2 linked regions of the Homo sapiens genome follow. The protein of the gene in region 1 purifies or fractionates together with the protein of each later gene. This does not show direct contact. Each region holds a gene or a part of one and is shown on either strand. Other genes may lie near its edges.

What was found.
Region 2: the proteins of ITIH3 (region 1) and LRRC47 purify together in Homo sapiens (affinity purification with mass spectrometry; one large-scale study listed by BioGRID and IntAct). This does not show direct contact.

The regions. Positions count from the first base shown.
Region 1 is NC_000003.12:52,804,632-52,807,196, forward strand, and holds part of ITIH3 (inter-alpha-trypsin inhibitor heavy chain H3 isoform 4 preproprotein), read left to right. Parts: intron 1-94; coding exon 95-103; intron 104-630; coding exon of another isoform or gene 631-741; intron 742-1,176; coding exon 1,177-1,209; intron 1,210-1,471; coding exon 1,472-1,507; intron 1,508-1,661; coding exon 1,662-1,775; intron 1,776-2,269; coding exon 2,270-2,474; intron 2,475-2,565. UniProt on the Homo sapiens protein: May act as a carrier of hyaluronan in serum or as a binding protein between hyaluronan and other matrix protein, including those on cell surfaces in tissues to regulate the localization, synthesis and degradation of hyaluronan which are essential to cells undergoing biological processes.
Region 2 is NC_000001.11:3,786,321-3,790,134, reverse strand, and holds part of LRRC47 (leucine-rich repeat-containing protein 47), read left to right. Parts: intron 1-2,824; coding exon 2,825-3,286; intron 3,287-3,814.

The sequences.
Region 1 (2,565 bases):
GCTGGTCGGCCAAGCAGCCAGCTCTGGTCCCTGCTCACAAGTGCCCTATGGCTTCTAATGCATTTCTCTTCTTCCTCCCTTGCTGCACCTGCAGATGCAGAAGGTAAGCCTTTAGCCAGCCACCGGGTTGGGCATTATGGAAGGGAGACAAGAGAGAACTGAGGAGGCCTTTCCAAGCAAGATAGGACCCCCAGCCATGGGGGCACACTTGGGACACCTGGGCTCAGGCCCAGCCCTATTGCCAAATCATGAACGTGCCCCTCTCTGAGCCTGAGGATCCCTGTGAGTTAATTGGGGGTGGCTTCCCTTGCCCAGGGAGACACAATCAGTATGACAGTATCTATGACCTGCAAAAATGAGCAATTTAGCATGTCAGTCATTTATACTTCATTAGTCCCATAGCAACCCTCCAAGAGGGCCCTTTTATGATCCCCATTTTACAATGGGGAAATTGAGGCACGGGGGGTTAATTTGCTCAGTCTGTTTGCTCACAGACTCAGCAGATGGCCAAGCTGGTACTTAGGCCAAGGCAGTCTGGCCCCAATGCCCATGCTGGGAATTGCTGGGGATCACAGTCCTCTGTGCCTCTCTCACCACAAAACTGGAACCTCACAAACTCCCTGCCACTAGGCAGGGCCTCCCCAGCCCCTACTGGCCTGCCCCACCTCCATTTGGACTGGCACATTTGGACTGGGCCATCACATTCCCCTCAGAACAGCCCTGATAAATGTACCGGTGCATGTGAGTACATATATGCATGTGCACGCATATGTGTGCGCCTGTGTGCACGTGTGGGTGGGTGTTTACTATCAAGAAGCAACAGACAGCCGTGAGCCTCACTCACCCCAACTAGGGGGTGGGAAGCCCAGGGGTGGGGCAGATGTTTGCTGTGAGCATTACTCAAGAGAGAGAAGATGACTTAATGGCTTGCATTTCAGCCACATCAAAAAGCCCTGCGCCAACGTTAAAATCACATCCCATTGCCACCAGCCCCATAAAGGGCTTCCCTGGACGTGCCCGATTTCCAAAGCCTAATCTTTGTAGTCACATCTCCACCTCTATCTGCCAGTGTTGGGGCCCCTCTGGGGCCCAGCAGCGCTAAGACAGGAGGAAGGCACGGGGCTGGGGGAGAAGGAACCCCTAGACCCTGCTCACCACTGCCCTTCGGCTTTTCAGCCACACCGGTGAGCCCCGCCATGTCCTACCTGAGTGAGTACATGCTGGCAGCTGCCACTCCTCCCACTGCTTAGAGCCTGCCCCTGCCACATGTCCCTCCACCGTGGCTACTCACTCAGCTCTCCGGGATGGGCAGATGGACAATGTGCCCTGAGGAGATTGCGGGGTGGGAGGGCAATGGCATTAGCGAGCGGGAAGGGGAGGGGAGGGGCATAAGCTGAACTCCTATGGGGGTCGTCGGGCGCCTCCCAGGGCCACTTGCTTAGCTCAGCCCTCTCTCCCTTTGTATCTGCAGCCAGCTACCAGCCTCCTCAAAACCCCTACTACTATGGTGAGTCCCTGGCTGCTCCTCGGGAAGGCTCAGGGGCCTGGGCACGTGCTCCTGCCTGTCTCGGAGTCGAGCCCATGGAGGCCAGAAGGCTGGGGGAGGCCCCAGGTATGATGAGAGGCCCCGGGAGTCAGCTCCTTCTCTAATGTGTCACCAGTGGACGGGGATCCCCACTTCATCATCCAAATTCCGGAGAAAGACGATGCCCTCTGCTTCAACATCGATGAAGCCCCAGGCACAGTGCTGCGCCTTATTCAGGATGCAGTCACAGGTGAGGCTTGTGGGCTAGGGCCGGGGCCAGGGGGCTCTTCCTGGGAGGGCTTGGGTCCCCCGAGGTAGGCACAGGGAACAGGTTCTCACTCTGCCCAGTAAGGCATCATCTTCACATGCAAAGAAACCCCTGGGGGTGGGGAGTGCCCAGGGCCACAGGCTTGCTCAGCCCCACATGCCAGTGCTATTGGGAGATGATTAGCGTGAATGGACCACCTGGGCCTAGGGTAGGACCCAGCCTGTGTCTGGGGAATAGCTTTTCTCTGAACAACACTCCCTGGCCCAGGCAAGTGGCAGACCCATAAGGTCCCAGCATGACCCAAACCTAGAGTGTCTAGGAACCAACAGGCTTGGGCTCTGAAGTCCTGGTCTCTCTTGTGGCCCCCGCTCTGCTGCCCCTCAGCCAGTCTGGTTGAAGAGGAAGGCACACCCCTAAAGGCAATCTGGACTCAGAAGTTCTCGCTGGTCTCTCTCCCTGCCCCATCCCTCTGGCAGGCCTCACAGTTAATGGGCAGATCACTGGCGACAAGAGAGGCAGCCCTGACTCCAAGACCAGAAAGACTTACTTTGGAAAACTGGGCATCGCCAATGCTCAGATGGACTTCCAGGTGGAGGTGACAACGGAGAAGATCACCCTGTGGAACAGGGCCGTGCCGAGCACTTTCAGCTGGCTGGACACAGTCACAGTCACGCAGGATGGGTAAGCTCCCCTACAAGGTCTCCAAGGTGGACTACAGGGTGAGAGTCTAAGGAGGCTCTTGAGGGATTTAGAAAAATCCCAGGACAGGAGA
Region 2 (3,814 bases), on another chromosome or scaffold:
CAGGCCAGAGTCAGGACCCACGTTGCTGCCGTCAGCTTAGCCACTGCGAGGGTTGTGTTTCCTGCAGTAGAGTGTCAGCTCCGGGTGACAGGTGACGGCATTTCATCCCATCAGGTGTCAGGAGGACCCCTAGCCACCCCCTGTGTAACTCATCCTCCCCAAAGCCAGTGTGCACCTCACATCCTTGCGGGCGCGCCTGCTTGCTCCCTCACACAAGTGAAAACTGACGCCACCCTCATCCACCCTTCATGTGTGAAATCTCTGGCTTCATTTCCTGCTGAGGCCGCCACTGGGTGCCCAGTGCTGGCCTGAGGGGCCAGCGTGCGACCTCGTCAGCAGGGCCTTGCATTTCTGACAAGGACTCCCCAACATGTGCGGCTTTGCGCCCCACCCAGATGGTGACTCTCTTGCCCTCCCTCTTGCTCTCCTTCCCCCGCTTCCCTTCCTGTCCCCTGACTCCCCACAGAGCCTCCAGGCAGGTCCTGAGCTGCTCAGATGCCCTTTCTCTGACAGTCTTTGCCTGGAAGGAAGACCCTTCTCCGAGTGCCCGCCATCATCCTTTCGGGGACTCACTGCAGGCTGCAGGCTGAACTGGCTGTGGCTGCTCTGGGCGCCCCGGTGGGGCCCCGCCCGCCTCCTTCGCCTCTGCTGCTGCTCCTGGGTCTGAAGGAACTTGCTCTTTGTCAGCGGAGGGAGACGCCGCACTGCGTGTTTGCAGGCAGAAAGGAGGTTCCACTTGAGGGGAACTCTCAAGCTTTTTGACCAAAGCCCCTTAGGGCAGCGCAGAAACCCACAGAGCAGAACCTCAGATGCCTGTGCCCCCGAGCTTCCAACCTCAGAGCTTCCCTTGGCCTCTGCCAGGCAGGCTGTGCCCTGGGCTGGTGGCCCAGGCTGGTTCTAACGCTGGAGCCAGGGCTCTGACAGGGAGGTGAGGAGCTCTAGAAGGCTGAGCTCACGGCCGCACTGTTCCTGGTGCTGCAGGCTGGCGACAGCATTGGTGATACGGCTCCTGGTACTTTGTGAGGCCACCTGGATTCCAGGAGTAGATTGGCTCTCGTCCCATGTGGGGCCGGAAGGGAGGTCTGGGCTGGAGCCACCAGTCCAACAAGTCTATCCCAGCCCAGCCCACCCTGTGCTGAGAAGCACAGAATTGTGGCAGTTCTGTTAGATCCGATGGACGCGTGGCTCAGGTAGTGCCCAGCAGCTGGGCTTGGTCTCAGCCCCTGCCTTGTGTTCTTCCCCAGCAGGCGTCACTGCTGCTTAGACTGCCCCATTCTCTCCCAGAGGGCACGCGAGCCCTTTTATTTCTTTTACACATGCTGTTCCTGCTTGACTGTTAAGTTGTCGCTTCCTCCCTGGGTCTCTGTTCTCCCTGAGGGAACTCATCCAGTGCACCCTCCCATGTCTGAGCCGTGCCACCCTTCCCGCTTCTGAGCGCCATCCCATTTCTGAGCCATGCTGCCCTTACCCGTGTCTGAGCAGCTTGATTGCTTGAGCCGGAGGATTCCAGCAGGTTCCTTTTTTCATTTCCTTCACAACTTGGGGCTTGAGAAATTCCATCACCCCTGCCATCCATTCCAGGCGAAGCAGGAGGTGTCCTCTGAGTAATCAGCCCATCCCCAACTCTGTTCAGAGTCTATCAAGTCCAGCCCTACCTGTCTCCTCCACACCCAGTGTAACTAGGACTCACCAGCCACACTGACCAAGGGCGAGTGCTGGCTTCCAGGGGGCCCACATGCTGTTGCCTCCTCTCTGGGGGCAGAGCCGGCACCGAGGCTGCCAGAGATCCCCGAGGGTCAGGCTTTGCATCCTGAGCAGGGTCTTCCTCCAGCCCTAGAGGAAGCTGGGACAGAAGGGTTTGCTCGCAGTGCCTGCCCCACCACCCAGGCAAGGCTGTGGGGCCTGGGTACCAAGCCAGGAAAGAGCAGAGTGGAGGCGGATGGGCCCCTTTTGCCTGAACCTGCAGCGGCCGCCTCACGTCATGGAAGTGGCTGCCCTCACACGCACGTTCCCTGCGCTGCCCAGACCCTGGGAAAGACATCCTAAGAGTGCATCAGGTGCCACTGTACCCCTTCCATCCTTTCAGTGAGGTCACCTGCACGTTTTGCCAAAGTCTGATCAGTCACGGTCATAGAAAACGCTTTCCCGTGGGCCACGGGGCTTCCTGGGCATCTTTGTGGCACACGGTGGTGGGCCCGATGCACCTGTCCTGGGTCAGACGAAGGCTGAGAACCCATCGCCGTTGAAGTCGGCTTTCCCCTTTCCTTCCTGCGTGAACCCTGAGAGCACTCTGTGTGTCACTGCGGGCAACTTTGCACTTCATTATGAAGAAGAATGCTCTTAGAGATTTTGCTGTATTTTTTTTTTAGCTCATTTAATTAAAAAAAATAACACCACTTTGGGGAACCTGCTTCTCACCTGAGCAGTCCTGGCTAGGTCCCGACATGAGGTCACGTTTCACACCCAGACATCCCCTGTCTCTTGTCACCTTTCTGTTCTCTAACGTGATGATTGAGCTGCAGGGCTGCTGTGGTTGTTAAAGAGGGTGACATGTTTGAGTCAGAAGCTTTTGCAGAGATCACTGTTAACCGTGGCTGACGCCTTCTCCTCGGAGAGGCTCCTCGGATAGTGCCTTTGATGTGGGGTGCAGAGCTGGGGAAGTGACTCAAAGGTGAATGACTTGTGGCTCCCCAGGGACGCGTCCCCACAGACAGGCCAGTGGTGGCTCTTGTGAGTGATGAGTGGTCTCCCTGCCTCTCGAGCATGACCTTGGACTCTCTTCCCAGAGTCCGGGCGTCTGACGCGTCCATGTTTCTCTTTGCAGACGTTGGACCTCTCGAACAACCAGCTGAGCGAGATCCCTGCAGAGCTTGCGGACTGCCCCAAGCTCAAGGAGATCAATTTCCGTGGGAACAAGCTGAGGGACAAGCGCCTGGAGAAGATGGTCAGCGGCTGCCAGACCAGATCCATCCTGGAGTACCTGCGCGTCGGAGGCCGTGGTGGCGGGAAGGGCAAGGGCCGTGCCGAGGGCTCGGAGAAGGAAGAGAGCCGGAGGAAGAGGAGGGAGAGGAAGCAGAGGCGGGAAGGTGGTGATGGGGAGGAGCAGGACGTGGGAGATGCCGGCCGGCTGCTGCTCAGGGTCCTGCACGTCTCTGAAAACCCCGTACCTCTGACAGTCAGAGTGAGCCCCGAGGTCCGGGATGTGCGGCCCTACATTGTGGGGGCCGTGGTGCGAGGCATGGACCTGCAGCCAGGGAATGCACTCAAGCGCTTCCTCACCTCGCAGGTGGGTGCCCGTGGGGGTCCTCAGATGACTGGGACAGAGGTGTGAGACGCCGCAAGCTGGGACACATCCTGAGGCCAGCGTGTCCGAAGGAGCAGCAGTGGAGTATGGGGCCCAGCCGGGTGTCTGTGTGCTTCAGTTTCCTCAGCTCCAAAAAGGGAATAGAGCAGGTTCTGGCTCAGGTGTTGCTGAGGAGGGGGTAAGGCCTCAGTCCCCTCCGGGAGGCAGGTGTCTCCAGCGTGGAGATGGCCTCTTCACAGACGCCTGCACCCTGGCCTGGTTGGTCCTGGTCACTGGTCGTATCCCTTGCTCCTCCACATATGGTGTTAACGGTTTATCCTGATTTTTTTTTTTTAAGGAGTCTCGCTTTGTCTCCCAGGCTGGAGTACGGTGGCGCAGTCTAATCTCACTGTAGCGTCCGCCTCCTGGGTTCAAGTGATTCTCCTGCCTCAGCCTGCTGAGTAGCTGGCATTACAGGTGCTCACCATCATGTCTGGCTAATTTTTTTGTATTTTTAAAAGAGATGAGGTT